3 linked regions of the Homo sapiens genome follow. The protein of the gene in region 1 purifies or fractionates together with the protein of each later gene. This does not show direct contact. Each region holds a gene or a part of one and is shown on either strand. Other genes may lie near its edges.

Evidence for each region. The genes of interacting proteins can lie anywhere in the genome.
Region 2: the proteins of ZSWIM2 (region 1) and BCAM purify together in Homo sapiens (affinity purification with mass spectrometry; 2 studies listed by BioGRID and IntAct, with this or other methods). This does not show direct contact.
Region 3: the proteins of ZSWIM2 (region 1) and TKTL2 purify together in Homo sapiens (affinity purification with mass spectrometry; 2 studies listed by BioGRID and IntAct, with this or other methods). This does not show direct contact.

What each region holds. Positions count from the first base shown.
Region 1 is NC_000002.12:186,846,014-186,853,633, forward strand, and holds the start of ZSWIM2 (E3 ubiquitin-protein ligase ZSWIM2), read right to left. Parts: upstream 3,158-7,620; 5' UTR 3,118-3,157; coding exon 2,953-3,117; intron 1,783-2,952; coding exon 1,706-1,782; intron 1-1,705. UniProt on the Homo sapiens protein: E3 ubiquitin-protein ligase involved in the regulation of Fas-, DR3- and DR4-mediated apoptosis. Functions in conjunction with the UBE2D1, UBE2D3 and UBE2E1 E2 ubiquitin-conjugating enzymes.
Region 2 is NC_000019.10:44,811,602-44,819,265, reverse strand, and holds part of BCAM (basal cell adhesion molecule isoform 1 precursor), read right to left. Parts: intron 7,104-7,664; coding exon 6,875-7,103; intron 6,789-6,874; coding exon 6,718-6,788; intron 6,017-6,717; coding exon 5,920-6,016; intron 5,829-5,919; coding exon 5,646-5,828; intron 5,115-5,645; coding exon 4,978-5,114; intron 4,663-4,977; coding exon 4,506-4,662; intron 745-4,505; coding exon 629-744; intron 526-628; coding exon 384-525; intron 211-383; coding exon 74-210; intron 1-73. UniProt on the Homo sapiens protein: Transmembrane glycoprotein that functions as both a receptor and an adhesion molecule playing a crucial role in cell adhesion, motility, migration and invasion.
Region 3 is NC_000004.12:163,470,592-163,478,588, reverse strand, and holds TKTL2 (transketolase-like protein 2), read left to right. Parts: upstream 1-4,834; 5' UTR 4,835-4,854; coding exon 4,855-6,735; 3' UTR 6,736-7,494; downstream 7,495-7,997. UniProt on the Homo sapiens protein: Plays an essential role in total transketolase activity and cell proliferation in cancer cells; after transfection with anti-TKTL1 siRNA, total transketolase activity dramatically decreases and proliferation was significantly inhibited in cancer cells.

The sequences.
Region 1 (7,620 bases):
CCTTAAACTACAAAAACTCTTGAAGAAAAACTAGGAAACTCTTCTGGACATTGGCCTGGGCAAAGAATTTATGATCAAGTCTTCATAAGAAAATGCAACAAAAAGAAAAATAGTTTAATAGACTTAATTAAACTATAAAGCTTCTGCACAGCAAATGAAACAATCAACAGAGTGAACAGACAACCTAAAGAATGTTAAGAAATATTTGCAAACTACGTATTTGACAAAGAGCTAACATCCTGAATCTATAAGGAACTGAAACAACTCAACAGGAAAAAACCTAATAACCTCATTAAAAAGTGGGCAAAGGACATGAACAGACATTTTTCAAAATAAGATATACAAGTGGCCAACAAACATAATAAAATGCTCAACATCACTAATCATCAGAGAAGTGGAAATTATAACCACAATGAGATATCATCTTATACATGTCATAATGACTATTATTAAAAGGTCAAAAAACAACAAATGTCGATAAGGACCTGGAGAAAGGGGAATGCTTATATACTATTGCTAGGAATGTAAATTAGTTCAACCTTTATGAAAAACAGTACGGCGATTTCTCAAAAAACTAAAAATAGAACTACCATGACCCAGCAATCCTATTCCTGGGTATATGGCTACTGGGCAAGAAATCATTATATCAAAAGATAGCTGAACTCATATGTTTATCACAGCACTATTCACAACAGCAAAGATACGGAATCAACCTAAGTATCCATAATGGTGGGCATAAAAATATACCACATTAATAAAATGTGTGTATAAACATATATATATACACACACACACACATATATATATATATATAATGTAATAGAACTCAGCCATAAAAATTAATGAACTCATGTCTTTTGTAGCAGCATGGATGGAACTGGAGGCCAATATCCTAAGTTAAATAATTCGGAAATAGAAAGTCAAATACTGCATGTTCTCAGTTGTAAGTGAAAGCTAAACAATGGGTCACATGGACATATAGAGTGAAATAAGACATCAGAGACTACAAAAACTGGGAGGGTGGGAAGGGAGTAAGGCTGAAAAATCACTTATTGGGTACAATGTTCACTATTGGGGTGATTAGTACACTATAAGTCCAGACTTCACCACTATGCAATATATGCATGTAAGAAACCTGAACTTTTTATAAAAAATAAATAACCTGAACTATTTATAAAAATACATGAAAATTTAAAGTGATTCATAGTCAAATGTTAACTGAAAAGGAAAATATTTTGAAACTTGACTGCCATAGGCCAATACGGAAAAGGTGAACACTTTCAACCTATGTATACATGTAGAAAATGGAACATTTGATATTCAAGAAAACGTGATTTTGGAAACACAATTTGTGGAAGCACAGCAATATCTCAAATGAACCATATAATTATCAGCAGTGATGGGATCAGGATTTTTCCCCCGTTTTATAGTTAGATTTCACATTTGTACATGAGAATCTAAAATTGATTTTTTCTATTTAAAAGCATTAACATTATAAAATGGTTCTCAATTTAAATGTTATTCAATTTTCAGAATAAAATGAAATACTGAAAAATTTATTGGTAAGCTATGACCATTTTAACTTTATATTCCCCAAACACCAAATTTCTTTAATTTTGTTGTTATTGAAACCATGACAAAGGCAAAATATTTAACACACCAAGATGTTCCTTCATGGAAGATCTTCATTTGAAAAGTCACTTACCAGCAGATATGCTTACAAAGTTCCCCTCCTTTCGGAAATGTGGAACAGTTACAAACGTGAGGATTTCCTAGAAAAACCTTTAAAGGAAAAATGCATACTTAAAAAGACCAGTAAAATTTGAGAGTTAGAGCAAAACTGAGTTAATAAAAGAGATTTGAAGAGGTAATTTAGTTTAGGTGATTCAAAAAGGTTGAATAGATTCTACTGGAGAATCTTAATTCTTGATACTAGTCTCTAGGCTTCATTATTTATCTTTGTTAGCAAATTAACAAATTAGGATGGTTTTAAAGTGACCTGCCCTTAGGCAGGTGAAAATAAATCTAATTCCCAAAGTCAGAGAAGAAAAAAAGCAAATATCAACCCATAAATTCCTCACAGTAAGGAAATTCTACTTTGGGGTGGAGCTAAGCACCTTTTGTAAGGTAGCTCATTTTGGATTTTTGTTTGGTGCATTTGAGTCGGTGAATTTATTTAATTTTATTCAAGAGGACAAAATTTATTCACCAAGACTAGTTTGGCTAAAACTATTAAATACAGTAAGTATTGAAGCAACAAAGTAAAAAAAGATGCTTTAAATAAGCACAGACTAGTAAATTGCATTCAATTCTTAAACTTCACGGCACTAACGTAAAATTTTGTAAGTCAACTCCTAGGAGGTAGTGCAGTGGCTAATTTTTGAGTGGTTAAGGATGGGATATGCAATTATGAAATATCTGTGGTCTTTCAGTAAACTTGAATTTTTATTCATTAATATCTTTCCAAGGTATTGCCATTTAAACCATCCTTTAATAGGGCCTTCATACAGTTTCAGAGTGAGCAAAGAGTAAAGGGAAACCTATTTATTTATTTAGAAAATATTTACAGTATGCTAGCAGATTGTAGAATTTTCATTTCGTTTGATTTACAGGACTAAGGACCACTAACAACAGATCCAAGAACACATGTAATGCCAACCAGGTATTCATACGCCTCTGACATTTTCAAGCCTAAAGATCAAGAGCCATCATCTTTTACAAGAGTTGCAGTTTGGTCTTAACCTCCAAAAAAGAAACTTCTAATAAATACTATTTCCTTCTGTAATTTCACGTATTTTAGAGTCTGGAACACTCGTGGGAAGGCGCTTTCGGGGGTGAGGCAGCAAGTATCCGCAGAGATTGTGATGGTGGCTACGCACATTGGGTATGCCAGTGGGGGAACCTGGTGGGCGGGGATGATGGCCAACTGGGGGCGGTAGGGGCGGTAGTTACTCGGAAATCCATGTATTCCGGCTCCTCCTCCCTCAGCAGGAAGCCAGTGGGGCCCATCTCTCGTAGGAGGTAGATGCTGCTACTCAGCGCCTGGTCTTGGTGCCAGCTGAGCCTCTCGCTCAAGTGTCTTCGCCTTTCAGAGGCCTTATAGCCTCGGCGAAGCATGCTGGGTGCGGGCGGAGGCGGCCCCTCTGCTCGGCTCACTGAGGCGCCAGCCGGTCTCCAAGACGACGGCGTGCAGGCTGGTTGCCTTGGTGACGGTGGTTGGGCTCGGGGTGTCCCGGTGTGCCCTGCGCCGAAGAAGAGCGGGCGACAAAGGTGCGGGATGGCATGGATTCTGCAACTCTCCCCAGCCTCCACTGCGTTTCGAAGCGACGCCCTTGACTGAGGAGTGTTTTTAATAATCATCTGGCCGACTTGGAAGCTGGAGGCCGAAGGCATAGCTGTCAATTTTCTTGCGTTCCTTCTGCTTCCTCGGGGCAGAGATGGTGAAATCTACTTGTTAGGACAGTTGCAAACCCGATTGCAGTCTGGGCTCTGGATGCTGAAATTATCCTGTGATGATTCATCATCTTTAACAGAAAGCCGAGGTTACAGAGCCCAGAGTGATTTTTGACGTTCCACAATATTCCACGAACATTTTCTGATTGCTCACTATATGCATAGATTGACTGAGTCTCTGGGGGAAAGATGTAGAAGACAGGAGTTCTAAACCCTAGGAAGTGCATCACCGGTAGTGGCGCCGGCTGTAGTCCCAGCTACTTGGGAGGAAACCAGATCCTTAAGTCATTTCTCTCTGCCTCTCTCTCTCTCTCTCTCTCTCTCTCTCTCTCTCTCTGTGTGTGTGTGTGTGTGTGTGTGTGTTGGAGGGGAAATGGTCTTCCAAGTGAGGGAACATTTTTTAATTGCATGTTTGGGTAGGGGTGGGTGTTGGGGATGGTACAGCCAGAATGGTGGATGGTGGTACGTCCTGAATGGTGGCACAGAATCCATTGACTATGGGTACATGAAACTTACAAATCTGTATACTAAGGAATAAGAGTTTCAAGGTATGCAATGTTTGTACCTCCAATAATTTAAATTGTCTCTGAGGTTTGTTTACCACATTTTAGGGGGAAAACTGTAATAAAGTATGGGTCAACATTTTGAGTCATAATTACTGAAAAAAGAAGCCACATTACTAGAATCTCTATAGGAAATTAAAAGCAGGAGATAGCACTACTTGGAGGTCCAGTAACCTTTGCCTTGGTGGCCAAAGATAGAGCATATTTGTCCTATTTTATCATGGGCAGAAATCATAACTAGATTATGTCAACAGCAGGAGAGTTCTCAGAAAATGGCAAGGGCAAAAGATGAAAGAAGATGATGGTAATGGCAGCTTTCACAGGTGAGACACCTGGATAAACATCATCCAACCCTTAAAGTCTTAGGTCTAAGGTCTAAGGTTTTAATTTACTAAATTTTATTTTTATTCTCCTATTCTGACTAATAACAACTCACATTCATACTACCATACTCCCAACTTTAGAATCAATTTAATGGTACTAGATGTTAAAGAAATACATTATAACATTAGAAAAAAACTCACATATCAAGAGCAAAAGAAATTATAAATTGGATTAAATTATTTTACATATTGATATGTATAATTTTAAAAACTCAATAAATTAATGACTCCATATTTGCTATATAATATGATGAGTTGGGCTTCAGAGTGAGGACATTTTATTCAACCATCAATTTTTTTTCTCTCTCTCTTTATATACATGTGTGTACATATAAAATAAAGTTATAAAATTTTTAAAAGCAAACAGCAAAAATTGTTAAAGCTGTTGTGTTTTAGTTATAGCTAGTGATACTTGTTTACTTGCTCCATGTATAAGTGATAAACATTTTCAAAGGGTCGCATGTTTAAGACACAATAGTCATTATATCAATGGAATATAGGTTCATAAATTCCATTTTGGGGGATGGTAAAAATAATGGTGTTTATGCTTTCATAGAAGTTAAAAAGTGAAAGCACAGATTGCTAGACAGAACTTCATTCTATTTGTAAGATATTTGTTTTGATATCTGTCAGTTATGACTTTAAAAACATTTTTATAGTCAGGTGACTATCCCATATGTTTGCTTCATCTCTTAAGAGTGTGTGATAGGGGTAATATTTTGAAAATATTAAATTGGAGAATTAAATATCCTCCTTCAGGTATATTTTGTGGCATATTTCCCCATGTGAGAGGGAGGTGATTACTGCAAAAAACAAAGCTGTGGGCTGGGTGCGGTGGCTCATGCCTGTAATCCCAGCATTTTGGGAGGTCAAGGCTGGGGGAATTGCTTGAGCTCAGGAGTTTGAGACCAGTCTGGGCCACATGGCAAAACCCTGTCTCTACAAAAAATACAAAAATTAGCTGGGCGTAGTGATGCGTGGCTGTAGTCCCAGCTACTTGGGAGGCTGAGGTGTGAGGATCACTTGAGCCTGAGAGGTGGAGGTTGCAGTGAGCAGAGATTGTGCTGCTGCACTCCAGCCTGTGTGACAGAGTAAGACCCTGTCTCAAAAAAAAAAAAAAAAAAAAAAAGATGCTTGAGTTTCATGGATCAATAAACCTGAGTTTCTTGGATTAATTTTTAGCCTCTTTAGCAATACAATTGTCATGAAAGACAGGTATTAAAAAGTTATGATGGCTCCCGTTAAGACAGAAAAAACTGAACCTAGAGTATTAGACCTTGGAATTATATGGAAAAGAATGCTCTAGGAAGTAGGAAGAAGAGTGATGGAAGTCACTAGAAGAAGTCAGCTTGCCAGTCTCCAAATGGGCATGTGTGAGTTGGGTTGAGGGCGGAATATATGGAGTGATGGATTGAAACATTGAGATGAGTTTAAGATGACTGAATACCTGGAGCAGGTGTGTGTGTATAGCATACTTCTGTAATGGTGTTAGAGAGTTGCAGGCTACTAGGAAACTTCAGCTTTTTGCCATGTCTAACACATGGCAAGCAATATTCAGAGGTGCCTGTGGAAGACAGGTAAATGATCTGGTTCTCAAGGATTAAAAACATGAAATGGATACAAGAGTTTGTGTTTATTTCTAGAGATCAGGCACAAAAGAAAGGCAGAATACTGGTATCTGACAAAGAAGATACAGAATTAATTGACTTCAAGACTGGAAGCAAATAGAACTAAGGATTCCAGAGGGAGGCACCAGCACAACCACCTTAAAAAAAGTCAAAACTCGCAACTCATTGTTCACTAACAAGGAACAATTCAGACTGCCCATATTGCAGAAGTGACCAGCAAGAGTCTAGGGGACACTGTGTAAATTTAAGGTCATCAGCTTTTGTTATCAGACACGTGTTTACAGAGCTTTTATTTCCTCATACACTCATGTATCTTTTTGAGATGAAATAGGGAATGAGTGGAAATCTAAAATTCTAGGCATTTTATCCTTAATAGTGATTATGATGGTCTTAACATTCCACTTAGCTTGACTAAACTTTAGACAGATTTTTTCCTGACTGTAGATTCTTGACCTCCCTTTTCTTAGAGTATTTACTTCGGAAAACTTGGAATTATAAATTCTTTCTCTACCCCTTTAAGATGTAAATATTCTTGCAGCCTCTTGTAGATGTGACAACTAGTCATGTCTTTCTCAAGGACCTGGGAGGCATTCTTTGAAATAGAATCAACAATAAAAATAGTGCTCTCGTATCCTAGTCTTTGCAGCAGCATAGAAGCCTAATTTAGATAAGTGCCAATTAGCAAATACAGGTGGCTTAGTCACATTGGCCAACCTTCACCCTAAAGTCCTCCAGTACTTTTCCACTAGTTTACCTCCAGGTGCAGGAAACCACCATGGCACGTGTGAATCTATGTAACAAAACTACACGTTCTGCACATGTACTCCAGAACGTAAAGTATAATAATAATAAAAAATATAAAAACTGCCACCTTTTGTTTCAGTAGTCATGTTTAATCTCACTCCCATATTGCAGTAGACTTTAATAAAGTCTTCCTTGCTTGTTTAACTCCATCCAATGCAGTTTTTCTTTGACAGTGAACACCATTTATCTAAAAGACTATTTGGTAATTAAGTCAGGCTAAATTATATTTTGCTGAGTTTTTTTCTTGTGAACAAAGAAAGTGAAGTCTATCAAAAGCAACTGGACCATTTATAGAGAAAATATTTTAAACTTTTTGCACATAAAAGTGTAATATGAATAAATATATAACCCACTATGAGTGTGACTGGGACTTTAAGATGCCAGAATAAGTAGATAATGTTAGTTTCTCCCCCATTGACTAGCCTAAAAAAAGTCAGGTTTCAACCTCTGACAATGAAGAGAACTAAAGAGGGCTGAGGTAGGCAGAATTTTCAGAATGACCCCAGTGACCCCAATGACCCTTACCCTTGTATAATTTCTTCCTCTGTGAATATGTAGTGTTATGTGACAAAAGAGATTTTGCAGGTATAATTGTGGTTACTAATCATTTGATTTTGAGTTAATTAAAAGGGAGATAACTATGGTTGGCCTCATCTTATCTCATAAACTCTTTAAAGGCAGTTTTCTCTGGCTGGTGACAGAAGGAGAAGTCAGAATGGAAGCAATTTTTTTTTTTTTTTGGCCAGCTTTGAAGATGGAAGGGGCCATGTGACAAGGAATTCTGTGGCC
Region 2 (7,664 bases), on another chromosome or scaffold:
CAGGAAGTGGAAAGGAGGGTGTGATACTTGGATGAGTGAGAGGGGGCTCAGGGTGGAGAGGAAGGTCCCTTACGCTGCCCCCCAATTGGCTCCAGCTGAGTTTGGGGTCTGGATGGCCGCGGGCAGAGCAGATGAGTGTGACTTCGTCTCCTTCCCTCCAGCTGCCATCTGCCTTGGGCTCTATTTCCGCTGTCTTTAGCTCTGGCGAGCCTGTGGGTGGTGGGGATGGGAAGAAAGTGAAGGGAGAGGAGAGAGAGAGAGAAGAGAGGCATCGAGCAGAAGATGGAGTCCCCAGCCAGGGACTCAGGAACTCGTCCTGTTTGTCCAGGTCCCACACCCCACACTGTCCCCATCCAAGCCCACCCCCTCCCTGCCCCCTGAACCTTGGACCAGCAGCGTGAAGTTCTGGGTGCGGCTGAGGACCGGGACTGTGGGCAGGGAGGCCTCACATACGTAGGTGCCATTGGAATCGAAGGTGATAGAACTGAGCGACAGCATGGGGCCATCGCCCAGGGGAGTGGAGTCCTGGGAAGGGCAGAGGAGGAGGAGGACGCTGTGAGAGGGCGAGGAGTGAGGGGAGAGAGGAGGGTGCGAGTGCAGGGCCCGAGGGGGCTCCTCTCCCTCTCACCTTGGTCCAGCGTAGGGCAGGGGTGGGCAGGCCGTGCACGGAGCAGTTCACGACTGCACTGCTGTTTAGAGGTAAGGAAAGCACCTTCCCCTCGCTGAGCTCCAGGGGGTCCAGATCTGCAGTGGGGGACAGTCTGTCACTCGTCCCAGACCGCCACCCACTCAATTAGGGGCTCTCCAGGGGCGGTCGGGGGTGCAAACATGAATGGACAGTTGGAAGCAGAGAACAGCAAGTAATCCTCCTGGTTTACCCCATCTCCATGAAATCTCCATTCTCCCATCCAGGCTCTCCAACCAAAAATCTAGCAGTCTAACCCCAACATTGACATGCCCAAGTCAATTACTTTTCTTCAGAGCTGACATCTGAGCCCAAGGTTAATGAATAACCTTAGGTGTGGAAGGTGTCCCTTCTGTGACTTTAGCACACAAACCTTTTGCTCAAACCCCAACCTGTGGGGTAACCTCCCTGTTACCCCCAAACATCTTTTCTGCAAAGTTTTGTTTTTGAATAGAGACAAGGTGTTGCTATGTTGGCCAGGCTGGGTCTCAAACTCCTGGCCTCAAGTGATCCTCCTGTCTTGACCTCCCAAAAGTGCTAGGATCACAGGCGTGAGCCCCTGCTCCTGGCCTCAGCAAGTCTTTATCTGGTCTGCTCCCAGGACAAATCCTCTGGCTTCCTGCCACCTCTGGCCCCAGGTTTGACTGTCCCAACCACCTCTTCACTAGCCTGCTCCTCCCTCTTGTCCATCCTCCACTGAGCAGCTAGAGGGACCTCTTTAAAACATCCACTGGTCAGGCCGGGCACGGTGGCTCATGCCTATAACCCCAGCACTTTGGGAGGCCGAGGCGGGTGCATCACCTGATGTCAGGAGTTCGAGACCACCCTGGTCACATGGTGAAACCCCATCTCTACTAAAAATCCAAAAGCTAGCTGGGCATAGTGGTGCATGCCTATAGTCCCAGCTACTTGGGAGGCTGAGGCAGGAGAATCGCTTGAACCTGGGAGGTGGAGGTTGCAGTGAGCCGAGATTGTGCCACTGCGCTCCAGCCTGGGTGACAGAGTGAGACTCTGACTCAAAAAAAAAAAAACAAAAAAAACCAACCACCCACTGGTCATCCCTCCCCTCTGCATAAAACCCTGCAGTGGCTCCCCAGTACCCTTGGCATCGAGGCCAAACTTCTTGAGGGTGCCTAAAAGATGCTGCCTGGTCTGGCCCTCACCCACCTCTTGAACCATCTCCCACTCTTCCCCATTCCTCCTGTGCTCCCAGCTACCCCGTTCTCTTGCTGTTTTTCTTGAGTAGACCAAGTTGGGGCCTGCCTCAGGGCCTTTGCACTTGCTCACTCTACTTGCAGTGCTCTTTTTGTAGCTCTCTGCATTTCTTCTTCTTATTATTTTTTTTTGAGAGAGTTTGGCTCTGTCGCCCAGGCTAGAGTGCAGTGGCGGGATCTCAGCTCACTGCAAGCTCTGCCTCCTGGGTTCATGCCATTCTCCTGCCTCAGCCTCCCGAGTACCTGGGACTACAGGCACCTGCCACCACGCCCAGCTAATTTTTTGTATTTTTAGTAGAGACGGGATTTCACCGTGTTAGCCAGGATGGTCTCAAACTCCTGACCTCATGATCTGCCCGCCTCTGCCTCCCAAAAGTGCTGGGATTACAGGTGTGAGCCACCGTGCCCGGCCAATTTCTTTTTTCTTTGAGACAGACTCTTGCTCTGTCACCCAGGCTGGAGTTCAGTGGCACGATCTCAGCTCACTGCAACCTCCGCCTCCCAGGATCAAGCGATTCTCCTGCCTCAGTCTCCTGGGTAGCTGGGATTACAGGCACCAGCCATCATGCCTGGCTAATTTTTATATTTTTAGTAGAGATGGGGTTTCACCATGTTGGCCAGGCTGGTCTCGAACTCCTGACCTCAGGTGATCCACCTGCCTCGGCCTCCCAAAGTGCTGGGATTACAGGTGTGAGCCACTGTGCCTGGCTGCTGTCTGCTTTTCTGAGTCTCACTTAAATGTCTCTTCTCAGAGGCTTCCCTGACCTCCCCTATTGTGGACACCCAGATCTTTCCTACAGCACGGAAGGACTTATTCCACCAGCTGCTAAGAAGGATGACAGCTGTCAGCCTGCAGCTGTCACCCCTCTCTGGGAGCTGCCTCAGCTGCTGAGAGCCCCTTGCCTAAGGCCAGCACACCTCTGAGGACTGGTTGATGTAGAGGTTATTAAGGCCCAGCCCCCTCACCCCAACTGGGGACAACTGTGAAGGGCCATCCTGGATTCCAAGTACCCCGTGGGGCTGACTGAGGCCCTCTTTCTTTCTTTTATTTGTTTCTGAGATGGAGTCTCACTCTGTTGCCCAGGCTGGAGTGCAATGGCACGATCTCAGTTCACTGCAATCTCCGCTTCCTGGGTTCAAGCGATTCTCCTGCCTCAGGCTCCTGAGTGGCTGGGATTACAGGTGCATGCCACCACACCCGGCTAACTTTTAGTACAGAGGGGGTTTCACTATGTTGGCCAGGCTGGTCTCTAACTCCTGACCTCAGGTGATCCACCCACCTCGGCCTCCCAAAGTGTTGGGATTACAGGCATGAGCCACGGGGCCCGGCCTACTTTTTTATTTTTATTTTTCCTGAGACGGGGTCTTTCTCTGTCGCTCAGGCTGGAGTGCAGTGGCACAATCTTGGCTCACTGCAGTTTCAACCTTCCAGACTCAAGGGATCCTCCCACCTGGGCCTCCGAGTAGCTGGGACTACAGGTGTGTGCCACTATGCCTGGCTAATTTTTAATTTGTGTGTGTGTGTGTGCAAATGGGGTCTCCCTCTGTTGCCCAGGCTGGCCTCAAACTCCTAGGCTCATACAATCCTCCTGCCTCAGCCTCTCAAAGTGCTGGGATTATAGGCATGAACCACTGCACCCAGCCTGAGACCTTCCTTAGACTTCAGTCCAACTTCTCACCTTGCCAAATCTTGCTTCCTTTACCTCCCTAGACCCAAGAGGTGCGGAACCCAGGGTACTTCCCATAAACTTCTTGCCTGAAAACATCCAAGTCAGAATCTGCTTCTCAGGAAAGCAGACTGCAACACCTGCCACCTAAAATAATCCCCTCTCCTGCTCTCTCTCACTGGTGATATCACCTGTAGATACACTACTGTTACGAAAGGGCTTAGTTAGCATTTACCATCTGTCTCCCCTACTGAAATAACAGGGGTGGTCTGTCTTGTTCACAGATGTGTCCCCAGCATCTGGCGCAGGGTCTACCCCAGGAAGGGATATGTAAGAAGTGCCAAGGGAGAATACAGCCTTTCCCCAGGGCCTGGATGCGAATGAACTGAAAATCATTCTTAGAAGCCTGGGATTCAAGGGATTGGTGAGAAATAGACGGTAGGAAGGATGGGCAGTGAAGGTAGGAACCAGAGGAGCCTGGGGGGTGATGAGGAGATAGCCTTGACTGGGGAGAAGGATCAGCTAGCTAATGGTGGAACTGGCCAGGTGGACCTTGAAGGCCATGGTGAGACACCTGGGCTTCTCCCAAGGGTACTGGGGAGCCATGGCAGATTCTGAGCAGAGGAGGGTCAGGTCTGTGCTATGGAAAGAGCTCTCGACAAGATGCGGTGGCTCACTCCTGTAATCCCAGCACTTTGGGAGAGCAAGGCAGGAGGATCGCATGAGGAGTTCGAGACCAGCCTGGGCAACGTAGCCAGGTCCTGTCTCTGGGAAAAAAAAAAAAAAAAAAACAACCAAAAAAACCCCCAAGAAATGCAGAGAAAGGGTTGAAGGCAGAGTGTTTGGGATGACAGAGCAACTTCAGGGCTGTAGGGAGGAGGGCGCAGAGGCACTGATGCCAGGGCCCCTCCTGCCCGCCCGTTCACCCAGGGCTCTCACAGGCCACGCGCAGCTCCAGCGTCTTGGAGAGCTGCACGTCATCTGCCGCGTCGTAATCCTCCACTCTGCAGCCATAGGTCCCGCTCTGGCCCCGGGTCACTCCCTCCAGGGTCAAGTTCCCCTCGAGATTCACATTCAGCACTTCCTCCTGCTCATCCTGGGAGACGGGGGACGAGGAACCAGGCTCAGAAGCCACCCCGGTTCAGCGGGCTCATGCTAGGTCAGAAGCCACCAGGTTAGTGTCATGCTAAGCCAGAATCAGGGGTCAGGGGCCATCAAGTCAGGTGGCATGCTAAGTCCTGACTCTCTCAAATCAGGGGTCAGAGGTCCTTTTAGTTCGTGGGCCACCAGATCAGGTGGCTGCCTAAGCCATGGGGACTCCCAGGTCCCACATTAGAAGTTATGCAGGTTAGCAGGTCACAGAGGTCAGGGGCTGGGGGGTGGATCCCAGAGGGACCCTTGGGTGGGTCACCTGAAGGCGGAAAAGCGTATACTCCGGGCTGGGGCTGCCGTCCCCCCGGCAGAGCAGCTGGACAGTGTCACCCTCGCGTACCCAGCCTGCTGGGGTGGACGGGCTGCCCACCCAGAACTGCACGTGCTCCGTGGGATCTAAGGGAAGGGCAGGGAGATGGGAATTGTGATCAGGGGAAGGGTCAAGGCTAGAGGACAGGCGAGAGGTCAGCCCTGCATCCCAGGTGAGGGCTATGGCGGGTCAAAGGTTACGGGTCATAGGTTTCAAGCCTCAGGTTCACAATTATTCTGAGTGCCAGAGTTCAGAGGTTGAAATAAACTAAGAGTATAGGTCAAGAGTCAGAGGTCCGTATGGGCGATGGGTCAGTGTGAGACTTGGAGCCAGATGTCATGGGGGGACCCAATTCAGTGTGAGAAGGTGGAAAGCACCATTTAGTCATAAACTTCATGGGGTCCAGGGTGCTAAGTGGAGGTCGGAGGTCAGAGGTCAGGATGGGGCTTGTGCGACCAATTGAGGTCAGAGGTCAGTGGCCAGCACTAGCACATTTTTTTTTAGCATGAAGTAGGGAGGCAGAGGGTCAGAGGGGAGTGTGAAGCCCCCGGGTGGAGGGTCAGGCCTCATGAGGTGTGGAGCCTGAGGTCAGAGGTCAAAGGCCAGCACAGACTCACAGTGCAGGGTGAGGTGGAAGGTGGGGCTGTCCAGGCGGCCGTGGCGGCCCTCGGGCAGGCTGTAGTGGGCGGCGCAGTGGAAGCTGGCGTCTCGGTCATCCTTGCGGAGCCGCAGGTAGAGGGTGCTGGTGAGGGAGAGCAGGCCCGAGGCCTCCCGGACCGTGCGGCTGGTCATGTAGCCCTCTGGGAGAGATCGGGGGAGGTGGCAGTCAGCCAGGCCATAGCCCCGCCACCCACCCCAGCCCACGTCCCGCCGCGCTCCTGCGCTGCTCACCTGGGTTCATCTCTACGGGCACCTCCAGGCGCTGCCCGTTGCGATACCACGTGATCTTGGGGGCCGGGTTCCCGTTCCGGCTGTTGCAGGTGGCGATCTGAGGCAGACACGGGCATGGCCCTGGGCTTGGAGCTGGGACTCTGAAGTCGGGGCTCCTCTCTCAGGAGTTCTCCCCACTCAGACTCATGAGCCGGGCTCCTAACTCCCGACTCTCCCAGGACCCAGGAGTCCAAATTCCTAGTCCCCGACTCAGACTAAAGAGTCCAGGCCTCCAGCACCATCCTCCAGGGACCAAGGATTCTGGGTCCCCCAGCTCTCTCCTTCCTAGGACACAGGAGTCTTCCCCCTCTGCCCTTCCTTTCTTTTTTCTTTTCTTCTTCTTTTTTTTTTTTTTTTTGAGACGGAGTATTGCTCTGTGGCCCAGGCTGGAGTGCAGTGGTGTGATCTTAGCTCACTGTAGCCTCTGCCTTCTGGGTTCGAGTGATTCTCCTGTCTCAGCCTCCCGAGCAGCTGGGATTACAGTTGCACACCAACACACCCAGCTAATTTTTGTATCTTTAGTAGAGACGGGGTTTCATTATGTTGGCCAGGCTGGTCTGGAACTCCTGACCTCAGGTGATCCGCCTGCCTCTGCCTCCCAAAATGCTGGGATTACAGGCATGAGCCACCTCGCCTGGCCTTACCCCTCCTCCTTTATTACCCAGGGGTCCCCAGCCCCTCCTCCCTCAGACCCAGGAGTCCAGGGCCCTGTCCCCTCCTCCTCCAGGACCCTGGGGCCAAGGTCCACCCGAGAGGTACCTCCTGGGCAGAGTCCTCCATCACAGACAGTGTCCCTTTGTTGGGGGAGACCTCAGTGGCCTCTGGCTTTGCTGTGAAAAAGACGTTCACGTCAGGAGCCCCTGCCCTGCGCCCCTCCCTGCCTGCCTCCCTTCGGGGGATGCCCGAGGACACTTACCAAACACGTTGAGCCGCGCAGTGGCCTCAGCAGTGCCTGCCGCCCCTGCCCTCACCACGCACACGTAGTCTCGCTCGTCGCCCACCTGGGCCTCAGCCAGCACCAGGCGCCCCTGGGAGTCCAGCTGGTATGGGGGACTGCGGCCCCGGGTGTCGTGCATTGTGACCTGGAGCTCAGAGCCCTGCATCTCAGCCGAGGCTAGGCGGGGGCGAGCTCCCGAGCGGTCGGTCTGTGGGCGCGGGGCAGGCTCTCAGCTCCGGGTGTCCCAGCGCTCCTCAGTCTCTCTCTCTCTGGGTCCTTTCTCTCTGCAGCTCCTGGCTCTGCCTCTTTTCCTCTTGTTATGGGTCTCCCTGGTCCCTCTGTCCCTCCCCACCTTCTCCTGCCCCCATTCCCTATCAGTTCTTGATTTTTCCTGTCTCCTTTTCTCCATCTCATTCCGGTCCCATCCCTTCTCCTCTTGGTCTCTCCCTCTCCCGATTGTCTCTCATTTTCTTTCCTCTTTTTTTTTGAGATAGAGTCTTGCTCTGTCGCCTGGCTGGAGAGCATTGGCTCGATCTCGGCTCACTGCAACCTCTACCTCCCAGGTTCAAGCGATTCTCCTGCCTCAGCCTCCTGAGTAGCTGGGATTACAGGCACATGCCATCACGCCCAGCTAATTTTTGTATTTTTAGTAGAGACGGGGTTTCACCATGTTGGTCAGGACAGTCTTGATCTCTTGACCTCGTGATCCACCCGCCTCGGCCTCCCAAAGTGCTGGGATTACAGGCGTGAGCCACCGTGCCTGGCTTCT
Region 3 (7,997 bases), on another chromosome or scaffold:
CCAACACATCCTCTGGTGGTGGTGGTAGAGGGGTTGAAAAGAATGGCTGGGCGTGGTGTCTCATGCCTGTAATCCCAGCGCTTTGGGAGGCGGAGGTGGGCGGATCACCTGAGGTCAGGAGTTCAAGACCAGCCTAGTCAACATGGTGAAACACTGTCTCTACTAAATGACAGAGCAACAAGAGCAAAACTCCATCCCAAAAAAAAAAAAAAAAGAAGAGATCACAGTTCTTCTTGTACTCTCTCCTGTTTACCAGGAAGAAAATCTTTAATAGAAATTATTACCAGCTGGGAGACCAGGCAGGAGGATCACTTGAGGCCAGGAGTTCAAAACCAGCCTGAGAAACATAGCAATACCCCATCTCTAAAAGAAAGAAACGATGAGAATTATTACACCCAAAGCAGACTTTTACTTACATCTTATTGACCAGAACTGGGTCAATAAGTGCTGACTGCCATTACTAGCCAAAGGGAATGGCATTGTGATGCTGGTCCTACATTAATTATGATTTTCTCCTGGGACTAGGAGCTGGGCCAAGTTTCTTAAATTTGTTGCCACCTCTCTCTTCTGCCCCTTCTCTCTCCACCGCAAAATAAGGACTTGTAACTGTGGAAAAAGTGGGATAGCATCCTACAGATGCATCATAATAGCATCTGTTAAAATTTTCAAAGCAATAATCCAGGAAGATAAAGTACATTTTTCTTTCCAGGAGACTTATTGCCTTACACAAGAATCTTATTCTCATTTGCTCCATACTTTAGCTTCCAAAGCCAACCAAATTTAAACAGTGGAAGCAAAAGATGAATTCAGCATTTATGTATTTTATATAATTCCATTTTAACAAAACTTAACAGTTTAAATAAGATTTAAGTAAAATTTCAGCGTTCCCAACTCCTAAATATCACTCACCCTCACATGGCAAAATATCTATTTTCACAAATCAGTGTAGACCTACTCAGTAATCGGTAATTGTGTGTTCTGTTTTCTCTGCTGCAGCTCAGTAGAAATTACACTTATCAATTGCTACTATTTAAGTTTTTCCCTCATAGCTACTTGTATTGGTAATCCTGTTAGATTTTGTTTTCATGTGAAGTACACGCTATAATGAATACTTTTAGATACTATGAGAAAAAATTAAGTGAAAAATTTAAGCAAAGTTAAAACAAAAATTATTGCTGCTTTTAAATAGACTTTAAATTGGGGTCAAAAGTGGCAGCCTGAAGGTATATTTTATTTTTCCAACAAAATGTTTATAAGTTTTTCAATTTTGAATGCCTTTAAGTGGTCTTGTATTCTCCAGTTTAACACAGGCCCCTCTAACCCTCTTATAGCTGACATCCAAGCACTCGTGGTAACTCCTTATCCCAGTAGGCACTTGAATTTGCCAATCTCTGCTTTGTCTGGATAAACCAAGATTAATAATAAATGAATAATGTTTTCCTATTTGCAGAACATTTTTGACTGGCTTCCAAAATGATCTCTAAAATGAATAATGAACTTTTCTCCAAGACAACTACATTTTTGGCGTGCTGGTTTAAAAGTTTTTGGCTGACATTTTGTCAGCCAAATAGGGTTTGGCTCCCCTATTTTGTCTTCTAAATAGGGGAGAAGGTGGTATCACGTCTTTGTTTGATTTATTTGACGAAGTTGTGTTCCCAGCCATATTGGGTAATTTTGCATTATGAAATTGTGCATACTTTAAACAAGTTGAGTATTCTTTAGTTGAAATTATTTGCTTGAGACCAGAAGTGTTTTGGATTTCAATTAAAAAAAAATTTGGAATATCTGCATTATACTTAACAACGGAACATTCCAAATCAGAAAAATCCCAAATCCAAAATGTCCTTTGAGCAGTTCCCCTGAGTAACATGTCAGTGCTCAAAATGTTTCAGATTTTGGAGCATTGGAAACATCAGATTTTCAAATTTGGGATGCTCTACCTGTATTTATATATTTTCAATTGTATATTTTAAAATATATTTCAAATTTAAAAGACTAAAATGCTTAAAGAAAATAATTAACAGCTTATATATGTTATTTATATAACATATTAATATAAAATTAATTTTATATAAACTTAATATATATTACATATATTGATATGAGTTTTTATATATAATATATATACTTTTATATATAGTATATCTTTCCAGATATTTTACTATATATATACTTTTATATATTTATATATATATATATATATATATCTTTCCAGAGTTCCTTTTACAAAATCTCAGAATGGTTTATAAGTATTTTACACATAATTTATAAAATATTATTTTCTATATAGTATAAAAAATTCACACGGTCTCACAGAATGATAGAGGGAAATTCACACTCACTATCTAGGGTATTAAATCTCCAAGACTACATTCTTCTCTTAATAAAATTGACCTTTGCTAATGTTAAAATTTTTTTATTTAATACTTTAGGAAATAGCTGTGCAATGTTTTAAATGAGTGAAAGAATGTGGGAACTTGGAAAGAAATGTTAAGAAGTCCCATGTTTTTATTCATGGGAACATTGCCTCATAAATCATTTTTGTACTATCATGTTTACTAATTGTGTGGATTTATTAGAGTTCTTTTTGGCCAAAATAATGGTGAGCTACCTGTGTTTATATTAACTACTTTCCTGTCAGCCTGTAGTAGTTTGCTATTATTTTACTGTGATTATTATTTTTTCTCTAATTCCCATCTTCTGTACTACCAGTTCTAGCCTAGTCTGCTTGTATTTCCTCCTCCTTTATTTGTCTAAAAAGATAAACAAGCTTTAATTTGCAAAGGACATGGAGAGTTATGGATACATGATGACCTCTTAAGAACTTCTCCAATGCCAACATTCCTGCAACAAGTCTTAAAATCAGTAGTGTCATATTATTACTATTTATTCTAATATGTGTCCTTAAAAGTTAAAATGATAGAACTAGTTGAAATAGCAAATAACATTTGAAATATTTTTCTGAGATATAATGCAAGAGATAATAAGTATAAAGAGTAACAACACCCCCTGAGTTAGTTGTTTACAACCCTGACTGAACATTGAAATTGCCTGGGGAAGATTTTAAAATTACTGACGCCTAGATCTATTGCCTAGAAATTCTGATATAATTGGTCTGGAGTGCAGCATGGACATGAGATGTTTTTAAAACTTCCCAGATAATTCTAAACTACAACTAATGTTGAGAACCACTGGTCTCAGACTATCTCCAGATTATGTTATTAACCTTGACTACCCATTATAATCAATGGATGTATTTTAGAAACATAGCTTCCCAGACTCCAGGTCCAGAAATTCAAATTCTATTTTTCTGGGATGGAACCAGGCATTGTGTTTCTTATGTGCCCTAATTTTAACGTGAAGTTAAGGTAAGAATTATTGCTCAAGAAACCAAGAGGTTTAACATCGCAATATGGGAAGGTATGATATATTATCATTGTGTTTTTTTTAATTGTTGTTTTATTGATGACAAACCATAACCTTGGCCTGCTAGAAGAGTTCAATGGCACAAATTTAGTTTTTTTTGTTTTAGACGGAGTCTCGCTCTGTCTCCCAGGCTGGAGTGCAGTGGCACAATCTGGGCTCACTGCAAGCTCCACCTCCCAGGTTCACGCCATTCTCCTGCCTCAGCCTCCCGAGTAGCTGGGACTACAGGTGCCCATCACCACGCCCAGCTAATTTTTTTGTATTTTTAGTAGACACGGGGTTTCACCGTGTTAGCCAGGATGGTCTCGAACTCCTGACCTTGTGATCCGCCTGCCTCGGCCTCCCAAAGTGCTGGGATTACAGGTGTGAGCCACAGCACCCGGCCCACAAATTTAGTTTTTTAAAGTAAGTAACTTTGTCTTAAAAATGATTTGTAGTAATAGTCATTAAAAGATAAACTGAGGCACATTAAAATATTAAAGCATTTATTTGACCATTCAGTGATTCATGAATCTGGTAGCTCCTGATAAAGGAGCCAAGGAGAAGGCTTTTATAGGGTGAATTTGGAAGCAAAGGAAAGATATTTGATTGGTTAAAGTGGAGTACTAGACTTATTTGGGTCATCCCAGTGGAAAGTCCCCAGTTAGAAGTTAGCTGGCAGTTTCTGATTGATTAAGCTTAAATTTCCTTTTTATCATTTACACTGATTTGGGTTTCCTTTCCTTAGGTAGGAACTCATGGAGCTGAAGCTACCTCAGCCTACTGGCCTTCTAATTATTTCAACACAGAAATAGTACTTTACGGCACACTGGAGTTGCAATTCTATTCTGCAATTGGGTGGTTTCAGATTTGTTCTTCCTATAAATTTTGGTCAAATTAGTCATTGCATTTCTTTCTATAAGTCTGAGATTCAGATATTTGGTTGCTCTGAGAAAGTCTCTGTTGAGATAGCATTGCCATACTGGTCAGATTGAAAGTGACTTTGTATCCTTTCTATTAATGTTCTGATATGAAAGAGTGATGACTCGGATATAGTGTTAATGCATTAAAAAAGCACAGCCTGACAAATCGCTTCCTATAATACACAGAAAAATGTCTAGTCTTGAATTTATAACACAGGGAAAGGTAAAAAATTTAATTATGCTTCCTAATGTTGAACATGCACGTGACAAAGTAAATACTAAAAATCCATTCAGCTGGGCGTGGACAGGGAGAGGGAACGGTGCACATCAGAGGGTGCAGGCTACTCCAACGTTTCCGTTTCCTCAGTCTCGCGGGAAGCTCCGTTGTGGGCGCCCCGGCTGGTGGCTGAGCTCAGGCCTTCAGGCAGAGGGGAGGCGAGGGCGGGGCGGTCACGTGAGAGCACTGCCGCGGTGGGTTGTGGGGGTGCTGCGGCGCCGTTTGCTTTGCCAAACCGACAAAAGAGAGATGATGGCCAACGACGCCAAGCCCGACGTGAAGACCGTGCAGGTGCTGCGGGACACAGCCAACCGCCTGCGGATCCATTCCATCAGGGCCACGTGTGCCTCTGGTTCTGGCCAGCTCACGTCGTGCTGCAGTGCAGCGGAGGTCGTGTCTGTCCTCTTCTTCCACACGATGAAGTATAAACAGACAGACCCAGAACACCCGGACAACGACCGGTTCATCCTCTCCAGGGGACATGCTGCTCCTATCCTCTATGCTGCTTGGGTGGAGGTGGGTGACATCAGTGAATCTGACTTGCTGAACCTGAGGAAACTTCACAGCGACTTGGAGAGACACCCTACCCCCCGATTGCCGTTTGTTGACGTGGCAACAGGGTCCCTAGGTCAGGGATTAGGTACTGCATGTGGAATGGCTTATACTGGCAAGTACCTTGACAAGGCCAGCTACCGGGTGTTCTGCCTTATGGGAGATGGCGAATCCTCAGAAGGCTCTGTGTGGGAGGCTTTTGCTTTTGCCTCCCACTACAACTTGGACAATCTCGTGGCGGTCTTCGACGTGAACCGCTTGGGACAAAGTGGCCCTGCACCCCTTGAGCATGGCGCAGACATCTACCAGAATTGCTGTGAAGCCTTTGGATGGAATACTTACTTAGTGGATGGCCATGATGTGGAGGCCTTGTGCCAAGCATTTTGGCAAGCAAGTCAAGTGAAGAACAAGCCTACTGCTATAGTTGCCAAGACCTTCAAAGGTCGGGGTATTCCAAATATTGAGGATGCAGAAAATTGGCATGGAAAGCCAGTGCCAAAAGAAAGAGCAGATGCAATTGTCAAATTAATTGAGAGTCAGATACAGACCAATGAGAATCTCATACCAAAATCGCCTGTGGAAGACTCACCTCAAATAAGCATCACAGATATAAAAATGACCTCCCCACCTGCTTACAAAGTTGGTGACAAGATAGCTACTCAGAAAACATATGGTTTGGCTCTGGCTAAACTGGGCCGTGCAAATGAAAGAGTTATTGTTCTGAGTGGTGACACGATGAACTCCACCTTTTCTGAGATATTCAGGAAAGAACACCCTGAGCGTTTCATAGAGTGTATTATTGCTGAACAAAACATGGTAAGTGTGGCACTAGGCTGTGCTACACGTGGTCGAACCATTGCTTTTGCTGGTGCTTTTGCTGCCTTTTTTACTAGAGCATTCGATCAGCTCCGAATGGGAGCCATTTCTCAAGCCAATATCAACCTTATTGGTTCCCACTGTGGGGTATCCACTGGAGAAGATGGAGTCTCCCAGATGGCCCTGGAGGATCTAGCCATGTTCCGAAGCATTCCCAATTGTACTGTTTTCTATCCAAGTGATGCCATCTCGACAGAGCATGCTATTTATCTAGCCGCCAATACCAAGGGAATGTGCTTCATTCGAACCAGCCAACCAGAAACTGCAGTTATTTATACCCCACAAGAAAATTTTGAGATTGGCCAGGCCAAGGTGGTCCGCCACGGTGTCAATGATAAAGTCACAGTAATTGGAGCTGGAGTTACTCTCCATGAAGCCTTAGAAGCTGCTGACCATCTTTCTCAACAAGGTATTTCTGTCCGTGTCATCGACCCATTTACCATTAAACCCCTGGATGCCGCCACCATCATCTCCAGTGCAAAAGCCACAGGCGGCCGAGTTATCACAGTGGAGGATCACTACAGGGAAGGTGGCATTGGAGAAGCTGTTTGTGCAGCTGTCTCCAGGGAGCCTGATATCCTTGTTCATCAACTGGCAGTGTCAGGAGTGCCTCAACGTGGGAAAACTAGTGAATTGCTGGATATGTTTGGAATCAGTACCAGACACATTATAGCAGCCGTAACACTTACTTTAATGAAGTAAACTAGGCTTATTTCTAAAAAGTCAAGTCTATTGGCTTTGGCCCAAAAGCACTGGTATCTTTGTATTAAATTCATGTTTATTGTCACAAAACCATTATTTATACCTATACAGTTGTACTGTTTCTTTTAAAGCAAAGCCATTTAACATCTTTCTTCATTCCTAATTTGGAAATTAAAGTTTACCTTTCTGTTAATCTATGTATAAATGTTACTCTGAGTTATTAATGTGGATTTTAAAATTGTAAGCAATAGAATAGGAAATAAAACAACTACCTAATACAAATATTTCTGATAAGACTACAAATATCTGACTGAGCTGGGGATTAAAGTAGAGGTAACTGTATCTTAAATGAGTATGATTTCCTTGTAAGTTAAAAAAATTGAAATTTAATTGTAGACTTCAATAGTCCAAGTTTTGAAGGATGTTTGAGCTTTTGTATAATGCCATTTATACCTGCAGTTTTACAGATAATGTTTGACTGCAGTTGCCTTGGAAATTCCTCCAAAGTTTGCCTTCATCTCTCCTCTACAGTTTGGAGGTGATGGTGCAGCAGTGGAACATCTCTTGATGCACCACACTACTTGTGTTCTGTGAAGTGATGAAAGTATAACTGGTTCTAGTTTGCACACTACACACATAGTTTTGTGAAGCTTCAGAAATGTTTTTTCTTTTCCTTGTGGCCAAACCAGTTTGTTAATCTGATTATATTCATCTGCTAATGATACTAAAGTTAATGTAATAAAGCATTTAAAAATCAGATACTTCAGTCTGTGCTGTGTATGTGGGATTTGATTTCTTCCTGATGAAATCCTAAATAAGGAGAACTTGTGTCTAAATAAGAAACAGAGAGAGTCATGACCCCCAGAAGCAAACCTGGAAAAAGGTTGAAGCTGGAGATAAGTTACTAGAGAAGATTGTATGGACTAAAAAGCCATCCCTTAAGCAGACTCCTGACTTTTGGCTGTCAGTGTGTAAATATATGCTTGGAGTACAAGAAAGTACCAGTCAGGCAAATCATAGATGGACCCAAGGTTCCAAACTAAATTAAATTACTCTGTGTCTATGTCAGGTAATTATTTCCTTACTTTTATTACCCTCATTAAGTTCTTTGGAGGCATAACCAATTTGTCTCAGCAATCATTGTCTTAGGAGGTATAATAGAGCCAAAAAATATTAATACTAACCTGGGAATTAGAGAAACCAGGCTCTCCTCATCTGCTACTACCCGTTTTCTCTAAGCTAATTTCCTCTTTTGTAAAATG